Regions from separate parts of the Homo sapiens genome. Here region 1 is linked to region 2. A link means that fine-mapping ties the variant in region 2 to the expression of a gene that starts in the linked region. Tissue or cell type: whole blood. Region 2 holds a variant in brackets; the other region holds the start of a gene. All regions are shown on one strand. Distances are between the middles of the regions.

Evidence for each region. PIP is the estimated chance that this variant, and not a neighbour inherited with it, causes the effect.
Region 1: FNTB starts here. The variant in region 2 is fine-mapped to the expression of FNTB in whole blood (TOPMed, PIP above 0.99).

The regions. Positions count from the first base shown.
Region 1 is chr14:64,981,982-64,990,068 of GRCh38, forward strand. FNTB (farnesyltransferase, CAAX box, subunit beta) reads left to right here and starts at 4,914. Exons shown (of 12, transcript NM_002028.4): 1 at 4,914-5,116. The coding sequence starts at 4,973. The region is part of intron 3 of CHURC1-FNTB (CHURC1-FNTB readthrough); the gene reads left to right. It overlaps LOC107984655 (a long non-coding RNA gene), which reads right to left and starts at 5,132. Exons shown (of 2, transcript XR_001750792.2): 1 at 4,699-5,132; 2 at 3,558-4,618. RefSeq lists an enhancer at 1-43.
Region 2 is chr14:64,879,140-64,887,241 of GRCh38, forward strand. SPTB (spectrin beta, erythrocytic) reads right to left here and starts at 768. Exons shown (of 36, transcript NM_001355436.2): 1 at 653-768. LOC105370534 (a long non-coding RNA gene) reads right to left here. Exons shown (of 3, transcript XR_943942.3): 2 at 6,784-6,851; 3 at 1,742-2,249. RefSeq lists silencers at 879-1,048, 1,099-1,238, 1,309-1,388. The variant G/A (reference allele first, on the strand shown) is at 3,107.

The DNA.
Region 1 (8,087 bases), 100 kb after region 2:
AAAGTCCAACATCAAGGCACCTGCAGATTCGGTGTCTGGTGAGGGCCTGCTTCCTGGCTCATAGGTGATGCCTTCTCTATGTGTCCTTATATGGCAGAAGGAGTGAGGGAGCTCTGTGGGGTCTCTTTTATAAGGACATGAATCCCATTTATGGCAGCTCGGCCCTCATGACCCAAACACCTACCAAAGGCTCCACCTTCAAACACCTTCATATTGGGGATTAGGTTTCAACATATGACTACTGGGGGCACCTAAACATTCAGTCTATAGCAAGTTTGTATTAGGGTACAGGGGGACAAGAGTGAAAAGAGGGAGAACAGTTAAGAGATTAGTGTAAGAATCCAAGTAACAGATGATGGTGGCTTGGACCAGGACACTGGCAGTGGGATTGGTAAGCAGTGATCAGATGCTAGATATATTTAGAACAGAACTTACAAGGAGTGAGAAAAAGAGAGGCAGCAAGAATGATTCCAAGGTATTTGGAGTAACTGGAAGGATGGAGTTATCATAATAGAGATCGGGGAGACTGAGTGCACAAGTTTGGAAGGGAAGACCAGCAGCTCTGTTGTGGATATGTTAAGTTTGAGATGCCTATTGGAGATCTAAGTGGAAATGCAAATAGACATTAGACATGAACTCTGGAGTTCAGGAGAGATCCAGGTTGGAGATACAAATTAGGGAGTTTTCAACCTATAAGTGTTATTTAAAACATTGAGACTGCCTGAGCTGACAGGGAAGTTAGTGCAGACAGATAAGAAGTCTGAGGACTGAATCCTGGGGTACCCCAAGCTAAGGTATCCAAGATATTAGAAAGGCAAGGAAGGAGGAAAACCAGTGTGAGGCACCACAAGGACAATGTGTTTCAAGAAGGGAAATGATCAACTGTGCAAATATTGCTGGGAAGTCAAGAAGGAAGACTTGAGATCAGGACTGAGACCTGGCCCTTGGATTTGGCGATATGGAATTTAATGGAGAGTTGATAAGAAACGATTGGAAAACCTGATTAGAATGGGCTTGAGAGAGTTGGAAGAGAGGACCTGGAGACGTTAGTAGTAGCAAATCTTTCAAGGGTCTCCGCCAATGAGTCATCGGGAGGTAGCTGGAGAAGGAGTGGAATCAAGAGGGTTAGAGATGCACCCCCCCCCACCCCCTCATAGCCAGGCGCGGTGGCTCATGCCTGTAATCCCAGGACTTTGGGAGGCCGAGGCGGGCGGATCACGAGGTCAGGAGATCGAGACCATCCTGGCTAACACGGTGAAACACCGTCTCTACTAAAAAAAAAAAAAAAAAAAAAAAAATTAGCCGGGCGTGGTGGCGGGCGCCTGTAGTCCCAGCTACTTGGGAGGCTGAGGCAGGAGAATGGCGTGAAACCGGGAGGTGGAGGTTGCAGTGAGCCGAGATCGCGCCACTGCACTCCAGCCTGGGCGACAGAGCGAGACTCTGTCTCAAAAAAAAAAAAAAAAAAAAAGCCCCTCACCCTCCACGCTGCCAAGAATGAGAAAATGGCATGCTTGAGGGAGATCTGGATGATCAAGTAGAGGAAAAATTTGGTGTTTTAGGAAAGGAAAGGGAGAATTGCGACAGTCTTTGGGGGGTGGCGCGTGAGGGGAGGGAGATGACCTGGTCCTAGGTAGGAGATGGGGCAGTCATTCCATCTAGGGGAATAGGAGGGACAGGACCGCCGAGTAGGAGGGCACAGATGATGGTGGGCAGTAAACTTGGGGAGGAAGTTAATTACCTAGCGGGATAATAGATGAGTTCTTTCCATTTTCCAAATGTTCCAATATGTATTACTACACAGTTTCACAAGATATTAAAGGAAACAATTCATTCCGACATACGGCTTGTATGAGTGAAAACAGGGAGAACGGTGAGAGCAGTTTTAAAACTTACTCCCTAAACGCACTCCAGGGTCGGAAGCGACCTCTAGGGGTTCATTTAGACCATTACTTTTTTCTTTTTCTTGCTCTTAAAAGTATAAAACAGCACGGTCCACATTTAATATTATTTTTAAAGAAACACGATCAGTTTAATTTAGAAAAGAGTATCAGGCATGTGAGTAAAATAAACATAAACCATCTGCAGTCCAAGCTGGAGTTGCTATTATCATGACTAAGAGTTTTCTCTCTAAATATATCATTCTCTATAGCACCATTAATATTTATGTTCATTCTGCTTCTTGAATGAGTGGTTTTATTAAACCAAGAGGAGGGACAACTAGTGGGCTATTTGATCCAGGTCTTCTTGATGCTTACATGGAGTACAAACCCCACATATTTTTCATTGCTGGTTTCACTTGATTTGGTGTTGTCACTGGGTTTCCTCTGCCTGGGATGTTCTCATCCCCTGGATTAATTAACTCACTTCCTCATGGGAGTCTTTCCAGACCTTCCAGGCTACCTTAGGGTCCCCCCATCATGCAAGCTCACACACTCCATGCTTCTTTCTGCCTCATCCCATTTCTCCCAACTGTCATGAAAGAGTCAATTCTGTCATTACTGTTTAATGTTTTTTCTGGTAAGTCATGAGACCCATAATGGCAGAGACTGTGTCTGGCTTGTTCACTGCTGTCTCCTTAGCACTTAGCTCAGTGCCCAGCACTTACCCTGTACTCAATAAACATTAATTGAATGAGAACACACTATCCTGCCGGAGACTCTTGCCCATGTTCCTATTCACATCTTTTGGATCCCACTGCAGAGGAGACTGAATTTCAGAGATGAATTTTTATTTCTAAAATACAGTTTGCAATTGCTTTAGGTGCATCTGTGACAGATGCAACAATTTGTCACAAAACTGTCCCAGCTATTCTTTCAATAGCACAGTCTTCAGGATTGAAGCGTTAAGTTTCCAGCTCTCCTGCAAAGAAACTCTTTGTGACAAAGGCTGAATCCTTAGATATAACCCTGACCTTATCAGACCATTTATTTCCCAAAATATAACTAAGGGAAAGACAGTAAGATGCCAATACAGGGGGCAGTATAATGAGACCATTTCACATTGTGCAGCCTTATCCATGGGTCCTAACCCATACTGTCCCCTTATTTCCAGATTTGGTAATATTCTGGTGCCTCTAGGTCTTAGTTCAGCAACAGTACCACTAAAATGGACATGGTGGTAGTATTTATCCACCTGAGGTCTTTAGGCCAGCCCAGCCTCATCTTTGAAATTTTTGTGAGTGCTTCTATTTACTACCAGAGACTGAGAACAGGGGAATGGCTGGTTGTCAAATGTCACTCTGGTCTATAATCCCTGGATCCTAGACATGTGACATGGAATGGAGTGGGAACAGAGTGAAGTGCTCTGAGCAGGAAGTAAAGCTTGTCTCCAAGTGTACCCGGAATGTCTGTTATCATACCTTCTATAATCTCCTACATACAACTCCCCCAGTTTAATCTCTTGGTATTATAATTTTTGGTGTAGTACTTTTGATGCATGCCCTAAAATAAATTCTCTTCTATTGCTTGTCCAAAGGTAGCAGCGTTTTCCTAAAAATCACAACTTTAAACTTGGTTGTTCTGGAGGCAAGTGTGATGAGTAAGTCCACTCCATAAGAATCAATAAGAATTTCTTTTATTCTAGCTGGGCGTGGTGGTGAGCATCTGTAGTTCCAGATACTCAGGAGGCTGAGGCAGGAGGGTCACTTGAGCCTATGGTTTTTGTTTGTTTTTTTGTTTTGCTTTTTTTTTTTTTTTGAAACAGGGTCTCGCTCTGCCACCCAGGCTGGAGTGCAGTGGCACAATCATAGCTCACTGCAGCCTCGACTTCTTGGGCTCAAGAGATCCTCCCACCTTAGCCTGTCGAGCAGCTGGGACTACAGGCATGCGCCACCACGCCCGGCTAATTTTTTTGATATTTAATAGAGATGAGGTCTTGCTATGTTGCCCAGGATGTTCTAACTCCTCAAGTGATCCTCCTGCCTCAGCCTCCCAAAGTGCTGGGGTTACAGGCGTGAGCCACCGTGCCCAGCACATGTCTTCTAAAAGCTGCTGTTTCTTCCTTTTTCAGGAGTTCTTTCCCATACTGTTCTTCTGGATGACTCCTCGTCATCCTTCGGATCTCAAATGAAAGGTCATTTAGAGAGGCTTGGCCTGACCATACAATTCAATTAGTTTCTTACCCCTTTAGTCTCTCTCATAGACCCTGTTATTTTCCTTCATCTCATTTATCACAAGTCTTCATATATTTATTGCGTTGGATACATTCAATTCTGTCGATTTTCTTAGAATGTAAGGTTTCCAAGGGAAGGGACTTCGTTTTGTTCACTTTTGTATTCCTAGAACCTAGCACAATGCCTGACACATAGCAGGTGTTCCATAAATATCTGCGGACTGACTGTCTATTTCACTTATCCTTGTTCCTTGTACTGCATTTCAGTTCTCGCTACTGCAGTGTAACCTCCAAGAGACAGGAGAAAATCATAATACCCCCCTCCCTCCATCACTGAGTGATACTGAGACGGCGTCCTTGCACGTTTGAGCAGCTGCTGCCTTCTCCTGGGAGGCTGTCAAGTACCCCAAGGTGCACAATAATTCTTTTAGTAATTGCCTGACTGAGGCAAATCAGTAGAGCTGTCAGAAATGCTTTCAAACTTAACATTCATTGGGTTCTTGGGCACCTGAAATTGCAAACAATTGCATTACAATTAAGTGAGAATTAGCAGAATGTTACAGTTCTTTAACAATTTGCGTAACAAACCGAGGCGTCCTACGCCATCTCGCTGAAATGAAATTCGGATGTAGACACCCTTGCGCTTCAGGACTCTACGCTCTTGCAGCAGCTCCTCTGCCCAATGGGGGGCGGCAGCATCTCAGTAACTCACTCGAAAGACGGGTAGGCGGGAGGAGACATTCGCGTTCAAAATCTTTTTGCCTCTATCCGCTCGCCGTAGCGCTTTAGCCCGCTCGAGTTTCAATGCGCGTTGTTGCTTAACGAAGCAGAGTCCTACACACTGTCTGCTGCTCTCCTGATCATGGCTTCTCCGAGTTCTTTCACCTACTATTGCCCTCCATCTTCCTCCCCCGTCTGGTCAGAGCCGCTGTACAGTCTGAGGCCCGAGCACGCGCGAGAGCGGTTGCAGGACGACTCGGTGGAAACAGTCACGTCCATAGAACAGGTGAGGTGGCAGGACTGGGCGAGGCGCCCGCGCGATGTGTTCTGGGAGCGCGAGTCCCGTTCGTAGGGCCGCCCGGGTGCGGAACTCACCGGGGAACTACGACTCCCACAGCGCACCGCGGTGCCTTTCCTCTGGGAAGCTCCGGGCGCCCAGGCTTGGGCTTCGTCGTGGAGCGTTTGCGCGGCCAGCTTGGGGAAGGGTCGTTTCAAGGTTGGGCTTGGAGGAGAGGGCAGTAGCCGAGTCCCCTCTGCCCTAAAGAACGAGAAGAATCGTGTTCTATGCCTGGAGGACAGAGGCAGCCCGTGCGGGTCGGACAGCCCACTCTGTTCTGCCAGTACTTCGGGAGGTTCTGGGGTGCATAGTGCACTTTTCCCAACCTGCCCTCAGCTTCTGGAGGCAGAGAGCAGGGCCAGGCTGCTGTCATGCCGTTTCACGATCTGTTTAATTTTTGACCTACAGTGCCAGGTTTGGGGGCCCGCCTCGTGGGTGGGCATTTTGGTAGTCATTCAGCCATTTGAGCACCAGCTACGTGTCGGACACAATATTAAACGATGGAAGTACAAGGAAATAAAACAGCTCCTGACCAGGAGCCTGGTTGGGGGACAGGCAGGAAAACAGTTTGGAAAGTGATCTAATAGAAAGAATGGATTTTGGACTACTAATCATTCCCTAAGGCCTAGAAGTAGGATCGAACCTATCATTTTGAAAAGTGTTTGGCGAATGAGTATATATTCATATGCCCAAAACCATAGTTTTGTTTTTCTTCTTATTCCCTAATTGGAATTGTTCCCAAGGTTGCTATGTGGAACTGTTTATCCATCTGTCCCTAGGAGAAGTGGTTAGGATAATTCTTAACACTAATAAATGAACATTCTGCTGCTTACTGAAATAAGATCTCTTAGTGAGATCAGTCTCCAGGCTTTACCTTGGAGAGACCTGTTTTGTATTTCCTACTTTAAGTTGGAAGCCTGTACTTTGGCAAAATTAGTAACAATAATTGTTTTATTGTACAGTTATGACTAAATAGAATTATAAATTTATAACAGAAACAAGGGCTTGATACGTGGTTATTCACAAAGTAGCAGAGAAAATATTTTAACTGGAGATTTAAACTTCATGGAATTTAGGGTAGCAAAGGAAATCCTCACCTCTCGAATCTAGCTAATTCTCCAGGTTGGTTTGCCTACCAGTGTGTCCCAGGGAAGGCTGACTGCAAAAGATTGTAAAGAAATTTCCCATTGATGAAAAACCTACAGGATCTTTGCAGAATTCCTAAATGATGGATTGCTGAGTTGATTCAGGTCAAGTGTTTTACTTATTATCTGACCTTAGACTATGGGATTGCCTTTTTTTTTTTTTTTTTTTTTGAGATGGGGTCTCGCCCTGTTGCCAGGCTGGGATGCACTGGCTTACTGCACCCTCCGCCTCCCGGGTTCACGCCATTCGCCTGCCTCAGCCTCCAGAGTAGCTGAGACTACAGGCGCCCACCACCACGCCTGGCTAATTTTTGTATTTTAGTAGAGACAGGTTTCACCATGTGGCCAGGCTGGTTTTGAACTCCTGACCTCCAGTGATCTGCCCTCCTCGGCCTCCTAGAGTGCTGGGATTACAGTCGTGAGCCACTGCTCCTGGTGCGAGTATCTTTCAAATCTAGACCCAACGGTATGGCAGACAGTAAAGAATCTTATATTTCTTTTTCATGTTGTTATTCCAGCACACATTATTAGAGTCTAGGATGAACAGTTTCAGGTAGTAGGATGATAATGTTGTATCTCATTTTTGTGGCCTTCCTCACTGTTTTAATAATCATGTTAGTGACCATTTATTGAGTCTCAGCACAGTGCTAAATGCTCTCCATATGTGGTATCATTCAATCCTTTCACTTTTTATGGATGAGAAGACTGAGGTTTAGAGACCTACCACATTGGTAGGTTAATGATACATTCATCAAAAGTAACAACCTTGTTAGGAGGAGTTGTTTACAGAGGATATACTAGTACTCTTTCAGTTTTAACTAAAGCTTCCATTTACTGATAGCTCAATTTTGTGCCATTGCCAGTAAAAACAAATTGATGGCTGACACCTGTAATCCCAGCACTTTGGGAGTTCGAGGCGGGAAGATCACCTGAGCCCAAGAGACCAACTTGGGCAACATAGCAAGACCCTGTCTCTACCAAAAAAAAAAAAAAAAAAAAAAGTAGCTGAGCGTGGTGGCATGCACCTGTAGTCCCAGCTACTTGGGAAGCTGAGGTGGGTGAATTGTTTTTGAGCTCAGAAGTTCACAGATGAGCCATGATCGAGCCACGGTACTCTAGCCTGGGCAACAGAGTAAAACCCTGTCTCTTAAAACAAAAAACGACTATACTGATTTTGGTACTGGCCTGGGCAACATAGCAAGACCCTGTGTCTATTTAAGATGAAAGCTTTTCAAATTAAAAAAAAAAACAAACAAAAAATAAATGCTTGTTACCTGCTTCCTATCTGATTATCAGAAGACTCGGTTTATTTGTTAAGCAATAATTTGGTAATAGGAGTTAAACCTATAAATAGTGGAAGGAGTCCTTAGCTGTGAGTCGTCTGTTCCATTCGTTGATTCTCATTCATTCAGCAAATACTTGAGCGCCTTCTACGTGCCAGGCACTGTTCTAGACACTCGGCATAAGTTGTTAAACAAAAGAGGCCAAGTTGATGCCTTTATGAAACTGTTTCTAGGCCAATGAGGCAGTCAATTAAAAGAGTTAATATCTATAGCTATCTCAATATAAAATGTTAATTAGAAACGCTGTGGAGAGTAACACCTTGGGATAGAGGGGATAGGGTGTGTCAGGAATGGGTGGGGTGGGAGCAGGGGAGGTCTTCATATAAGGTGTTAAGGGGAACCCTCTGGTGACAACACATGTGATCTGAGACCTGAAGTCTCAGATGAGGGAGGAAGCCATCATGGATCTGGTGCAAGAGTATTCTGGGCAGA
Region 2 (8,102 bases):
GAACTCTTTGGGAGAGGAAGACTAGGGGTCCTTGAAGTATGGCTTGGGGCACTAGGATCTTTCCTCCCTCGGTCTACACGGGGTCACTCTCTGGGTGGCTCCCAGCACCCGGAGGCCCGGCCCCCTCTGCTGCCCTCACCTGTCCCTCCTGCCTGGGCGCTGGGTGGCCCGAGGAGAGCGCAGCCAAGTTCCCCAGAAGAGGGATATGAGCGGCCACAAGGCTGAGAAGCCGGACAAAAAAAGGCAGAGAGCAGCGCTGCGGTCGGACGGGCTAGAGGCGCAATCCCCTTCGCTCCCAGGCCGGGGTCCTGGAGAAGGCGGACGAGAACACGCACCCCCGTCACCCTCTCCCTGCGCCCCGGGGTGACGGACTCTCCGGGATCCCGCTCTCCAAAGCTAGCACCAAGTGCCTCGGACGCCCGCGCGCGTTCCCGCGTCCCGGGATGATCTTTGCCGCAGCTGCCGGGCTTCCCGGGCCCCGCACCCCTCCCACCCCACGCCCGACAACCGGGGCTGGACTCCCACCCGGTCCTCTGGGCCCTGCGCGTCAGGCGCCCCCTGGGCCCAGCGCTCCTTTGAGCTGGCGCCGCGCGTCCCAGCCTTGCGCACCCGCACCCAGCTCCCTTGGCCGCCGGGCCCTCCTGGGACTCACCTGCCCTGGGACTGAAGCGGGGGCCACCCCGAGCCCGGGGGTGGCGGCGGCGGCGGCGCAGGGGGAGGAGGGCAGCGCGGGGCTCCTGGCACAGCGGCCGCCGGGCGCCTGGTGCTGCCGAGCCGCGGACCCGCCCAGAGATATAAATAACATTATCTGAGGAGGGACATTCCTGCCGGGGGACATCGCTGCTGCCGGGACCAGATAGTCCCGCGGCGGGGGCGGGGAGGCGGGGCCGCAGCCTCCCGCAGCGCCAAGCCCAGCCCCCGCCTTCCCCACCCACTCACGCACCTGCCAATCAGCCTCCGCGCCTGGGGGCACCTGCCGGGCCTCAGCCCGGCTCCTGGAACCCGCCTCTGCCTCCCCGCCCGCCGCTGAGCCTGGGGCGCCTCCATCGTCGTTCATTGCCCCTAACCCCGCGCCACCCCGAGCCCCCTGAGGCGGGAAGGGGGTTGGACTCTAGCTCGGGCCTAATTCGTGCGCCCGGAGAGGCAAGCCTGGTGGCGAAAATGAGCCCTCCAGCCTTTCCCGCCCTGCATCCCCACTGCACACAGTTCAGTTTTTAAAATATATGAAAAGACATTTAGGCCATAGGGTGGGCGCGGCGGGTACCCGGGAGGTGAACCCCCGCCGTGGCGGGTTTGGGAGGGACAGATTGTTCCCGGGGGCTGGTGCATTAGAAAGCGCGCTCCCGGGCGGGCTTCTCTCGGCTGGCGGTGGGAGGGCAGGGGGCGGGCACTGGGCCCGAGGGCCCCACCCCCAGCCCGAGCTCAGTGTCGCTGTTTCTGCCCGAAAACCTAGTGTAATCAGGACGAACCAGGCAAAGCTGGCGGCGCGCAGCCTGCAGTCCCAAGGAGCTCGCACATTGTAGGGACTGTAATCAACAGGCAGGCTGCCACACCTGCCCACTGGCACCTCCTGGCCGGCCCGGGTCTCCGGGCGAGTGGGGGTGCCTCACTACAAGCCTGGATGAGGCGCGGCGCAGCAGGCCAGAGGAAATACTAGAACCGATGGTGCCAAAAAGGCATCTCCGAGTTGCCCCCGGAGAGAAACTCAATAGAACACCGGCAGCTTGCAAGGCAGTACATTTTCTTGACTTTCTAACGATCAAGGTCATTGTTCAGTAAGGTTTACGTGTACGCCTTGAGGTAGCTTTCATCTCTTTTCTCCACCTGCGGTGCCTGGGATGATTTCTCACCAGCTATCAACGCAGGTAATCTCAGGTATTATGGAAATGGCCGTGGAGATTAAAAGCGCATAGATGCAGAAGAAGTTTTAACTTTTACTGATGCTGCCTGGTGTTCTTAACAAGGGAACAGTCTTACTCCTGAGTTATTTGCTTGGGATTATAATTGTGCTGTTTTCCAGAATTCACCCAGGAAAGGGGTGTTTGCCAGATGTTCGAGTTTAGTTTATATATTGAACATATGCAAAGATACTTCACTTCCTGCTGCAGTCCCACTTCTTGAGGGTGGGTATTTAGACACTGAGATGTGCTGAGTGGGACAAACGCCCCAGGTATTACAGAGCCACAGAATTCTTCACTCCACCCTCCTCTTGGCTGGATCCTTATTACAGCTCAATTTTCCAAGAGACACTAGTAATATGGGAAAGAGGATACAAAAACATTCATGGTCATCGATAGATTCGCAGTGATCCCCTCCTCCCCTTTGTTGACAACATTTAAGAATGCATTTTTCTATTACTGAGTTAAAAAGAGAAAGTTCTGTTTTGTGAAAAAAAATGTTTAAAAGTCAAATTCTGGCAAGGAAAGCTCAAGAAAAACAGGCCAACTTCAAAAGCTGAGACTATTATATATCTCAAGAAGAAATCCTTCATCTATTTTTGTTAGAAAAAAATGGAGGGAAATTATGTATTTATGGTTTTTTAAAAGCTTGTATGAATAAACTTATTAGATAAATTCATGGTTCTCTAGAATGGTGGTTCTGCAGCTACGTAATTATATACTATGCAAGCCAGATAATTCCTTAGCTATAGGTCTGTGGCACTGAACTGAATAGTTGCATACATATTTTTCTTTGTAGCCTTAAAATTTATAATTTTCAACCATAAGAAAAAATTAATATGATAAAACTCCAAATCAGCAGACAGATTACCCCAACATTTTACAAACCAGCTCAGCTGCTTTAGTTATCTCCACTTTAGCTGAAAGCTAAATAATTCAATACAACCTCATTTGCTACAGAGCATGTTATCCTGACAGCATCCCCAAATGCTTTACAGCTAATAGAGTTACAGTGAAATGATAAATCAGAACTGAGGAAGAGAGGAAATTTAGGCTTGCAGTGAGGAAAGGGCATTGTCAAATAATAGGGAAAGGGGAACAGATCTCTGTGGCCAGGAATGAGAAATTGGGAGAATAAAAGAAGGGAGAAAGGTTGGGCATGGTGACTCACACCTGTAATCCCAGTACTTTGGGAGGCCGAGGCAGGC[G/A]GATCACTTGAGGTCAGGAGTTCAAGACAAGCCTGGCCAACATGGCAAAACCCTATCTCTACTAAAAACACAAAAATTAGCTGGGTGTGGTGGTGCGCACCTGTAATCCCAGCTACTTGGGAAGCTGAGGCAGGAGAATCACTTGAACCTGGGAGGCATAGGCTGCAGTGAGCCAAGATCACGCCACTGCACTCCCACCTGGGTGACAAAGCAAGACTCTGTTTCAAAAAAAAAAAAAAAAAAAGAAGGGAGAAGGAAACACATACATATGTTCGTTATCAAGGTCATCATTGTGGGCAATAGGGATCACGTCTGGAGGGACCTCCTCAGAAGAGTATAGAATACCTCTTGGAATTGTCTATGTGAAGGATAGGAGATTAACCCTCATCCTGGTTGGACAAAGGACTGCCCCCACTGGTCTCCCACCCATGTTGAAAACCTACACTTCCGAGCTACCCAGCAAGCTCCACATAGGCAGTCTGCAGATTTGGAAGAGTTCTGGGGCCAGAAGAGAAGGTGTGCATTTGAGAATAGATGTTGACAGCCAGAGAGTGGGGGGTAAACCTTCACAGAACTGTCTACTCAGGTCTAGCTGAAACCAACAGGTGAGGCCAAGAAGATATAAGTTGAGACTTATGTTAGAATCATCTAACATAAGAGGGAACTTTCACTTTCCATTTCTGTAGTCTTTGAGTTTTTCACAATAAGCTTGTATTGTTTAATAATAAGTAGAGATGATAAATAAATTAAAAAGTAAAGATTGGATGGAGATGGTGGATTGAATACACGCATTTAGCTTCTCTTCTACCCCAAATTTCATTAGAAGATATGTCTGAAACAGGCATCTAAAAGCACAGGAAAATAAGGAAAAGGGGATCAGTGTTCCAACAATGTTCAAGAAATCCAGAGATACAGAAAAGATGCAAGATCTGATTCACAGAGAAACAAAATCAGAGGAAACCAAAACAGATTCAGGAGGAGCAATAGTTTAGGGAAGTTGCAAGCAATAGTTAAAGGATACAAGAGGAGGAGGGGCCCTGAGACAGAATAATTCACTTAGGAGCCTCCTCTGTCCTGCTCACATTAAATATCAGGTGTTTGCCTGCAGGACTTAAAAAAAAAGTTAATGGGGATCCTGGGACCCAAGGGGCAGAGCTCAGGGATCTAGTGACCCCAAGAAATGACAGAAACCATTCACTCTCTTGGGATAGCATGTCCTGACCCTTCTTCACAGCCCCTGAAGATAGGCTATGATAAGCAGAAAGAGGAGACAAGCCCATTCCCACATTAAGGGATGATAGGACAACCACCAAATATCTTATGGGGAGAGGGGAACCAATACCATGAAAGAGAAGCACCAAACCCAACTAATAGAAGGAAATAATATCAGAGGAAACTAAGTTAATAAAAGGAACAAGATAAATGTTAAATAATTTAATTTTAATCAGCAAGTCTTGAAAGGATATTGCATCCACAACAAATAATCAGTGAGAAACCTTAGAAATTTAAAAAGTCATTTCTGATATTGAAAATTCATTAGTTGAGAAGCAGAACAGACCTACTTGAAGGGCAAATTAGTGGAAACAGAAGCCAAAGAAATTTTCCCCAAACACCGGGCAAAAGACAAAGGAGATGGAAAGTATGTGAAAATGGTTGAAAGCCATGTAGGCAAAATCCCCCAAGGTCCAGTATTTGCTTAATGGAAGTTACAAAAGGAAAGAAAAGAGAGTAGAAGAAGGTAATAATGGGAAAGTAGAATAGAAATTCTCAGAGTTGAAGAAAAGCATAAATTTTCAGATTATAAAAACCAACTGAGTTGCCAGCCAGATGATTTTTAAATATAGTTCACAGTTTTATGAACAGTTTTAAAGTTTATGATTTTATTTATAAAACCCAAGACATTGAATAAAAATAAGTCATAAACCAAAAACTATAATAAGCTACACCAACTTGCTTGGCCTTGAATTAAATTGATCCTAAAAATATTTTGAGCTGGATGCGATGGCTCATGCCTGTAATCCCAGCACTTTGGGAGGCTGAGGTGGGAGGATCACCTGAGCCTAGGAGTTCGAAGCAGCAGTGAGCTATGATCACGCCACTGTACTCCAGCTTGGGTGACAGAGCAAGACCCTATCTAAAACAAAAATAAAAACAAAAACAAAAAACTGAATCACATAACCAAAGTTATTTGTGTGAAATAAATGAACCACTTGAATTCAGAAATGAATATATATGTAGGAAAGCTACGGAAAAACGTAAATACCAAACCAAACAAACCTGAAGTTCCACTCAACTCAAACTCAAATCCCCGCCAACAACAATGGAGGTATCAAGAACTCATGATAATGTTCAGAAATCATCAGAATACTGCCCATAGCTCAAAAATCATTATTTCCCTTCTTTACCCTTTTGCAAAGACATGCATTTCATAAAATTAAGGTGAAATTTCCATTTCATTTTTGGAAACATCTAGAGGCATCACATTCTCCACAACTTTCAAAGACAAAGCAGCAGCAGGACCAATTGGAAAAGCCTGCCATTTACAATATGGAGGAATCAAGGATTAGGGACCAAACTTGCCCTTCAGATGCCTCAAACAGAATGGTTGTGGAAGGAACTTGAAAGCCTGCAGCAAGTTTGCAAATACCAGATGAACCATCTTCTGAAGGGGCAGATGACACCAATTTCAAATTTCCCTCCACCAATAACAGGAAAAAGCAAAACAAGATTTGTATCCTGTCATCTGCTAGTCCATGGAAGCATTAACCAGGCTTGGAAATTAATGAGCATCTTTTCTTTTCTTTTTTTTTTTTTTGAGGTGGAGTCTTGCTCTGTTGCCCAGGCTGGAATGCAGTGGCTCACTGCAACCTCCACCTCCTGGGTTCAAGTGATTTTCCCACCTCAGCCTCCTGAGTAGCTGGGATTACAGGCATGCGCCACCATGCCCAGCTAATTTTTGTATTTTTAGTAGAGACGGGGTTTCACCATGTTGGTCAGGCTAGTCTCGAACTCCTGACCTCGTGATCCACCTGCCTTGGCCTCTCAAAGTGCTAGGATTACAGGTGTGAGCCACCATGCCTGGCTGCATCTTTTCTTATATTGCAGTTCCTGATCTTTCCTTGCCACACAGGATTAGGTTTTTTGTCACCTCACATGAGCTTGAGTAGATGTAATGGCAGACTTACACTGGGGTATCTGATGAACTGGGACCTGTAGGTGCTAATTCACCTTGTTCCCAAGGCTGTATTAATTTGCTAGGGCTCCCATGACAAAGTACCATATGCTGGGTGACTCAAACACAAAAATTAATTTTCTTACAGTACTAGGGTCTAGAAGTCCAAGATCAAGGTTTCGGCAGGGTTGATTTCTTCTGAAGCCTCTCTCCTTGGCTTGTAGAGGGCTATCTTTTCCCTCTGTCTTCACATAGTCTCCACTTTGTGTGCACCTATGTCCTACTCTCTTTTTTTTTTTTATGGACATGAGTTATATTTGGTTAGGGCCCATCCATATGACCTCAGTTTTACTTTCACTACCTCTGTAAAGCCTTATCTCCAAATACAGTCACTTTCTGAGGCATTGAGATCTAAGACTTCAACATGTGAATTTAGGGGGATACAATTAAGTCCATCACACAGCCTCATCTTTTCTCACAATGAATTGCTTCTGGAGCCTCTTACCTGTTCATCCGTTCTCCAGTTTCCCTCTCCTTCAATTCTGCTTCCACATAGTAGCCAAAGTACACTTTCTAAAAAGGAAGGTTGGTCTTGTCACTCTGCTTCTTTAAATCAGCCAGTGGCTCCCCATTGCTTTCAGGATATAGTTTTAAGATTCCTGGCACTTAGCATAGTATCTGACACAAAAGATATACTTAATAAAGGCCTAATGAGCAAATGAGTAAATAAATGAATGAACACATTATGGAAATTAAAGGAGGTTGCAATCTTGGAGATCAACCAAAGAACAGGTAATTCAAAAAGTCATTTCTATTTGGCTTAAAAATGCATATTTGTGATTTTTTTCAGGAGATTAACTTTCCTATCTATGTTCGAATAAGGTTATTTAAATGAATTCACATTCCCTGAAACATAGCTGGCAATATTTGTGCCTGAATTTCACCAGGTCCTCAGCTACCCTGATGCATCCATACCTAACTTATTGTCAATGGGTGAGAAATGGAGTGAATCGAGTAGGTTTTATGCTCACAGTTACCACTGAGCTCATCTATGGAGGCAGGGGTCTGCCATCTTCCAACGTCTTTATAACAAGGGATAGCAAACACAATAATGATGATTCGGTTAGCTTTTGTCTCTGTCTGCTCCACCCTCTCAGTGTCATTTTCAGTCCTCATCCTTGGGCAATGGCCCTGCTCCAACTCCCATACTCCAATATGCCAAAGCCTTGAGTACACAGGATTAAGAACATAGGAAGATGAATCCAAACGCATTATAAGGAGTGAGTTAATGTTGTTTTGATATTAACACTCTACCTTGAGTACTCCAGACAGTGGGTAGTCTGCAAGTAGACAACTGAGAGTAACTAACCATGAAAACTTTGTTCTCTTCCTTTATTAATATTTATCAAGCCAGAAACTCAAATCAAGGGTAGAAAATATAATTTTAAAAAATCAAATTTGTTAATATGGAATGACAGCTGGAGTTCTAACAGTTTAACCAATAAAACAATTTTGTGTTTATATGATAATTACTGCCAGCATAAATGGTCTTGTTAATTGCTTTTATTTGTTAGTGAGCAGTTTCCAAATTCACAAATATTTGTTCTTAATATTAACCAAGACCTTTGGGAAATTTTCAATAAAGTTTGGAAAGACATTGCAATAAAAGACTCCATTACTTCTGCAAATTCATCTCATTTTCTTTTCTATTGGATATTTCTACAGCTGCTCAATTTCTGTTTGGATATTTCTTCAATGATTTAAGGTCTGGTCTACAAGAAACTATGATTCAATTCAAACATATGTTTTATAGAATTCATACAG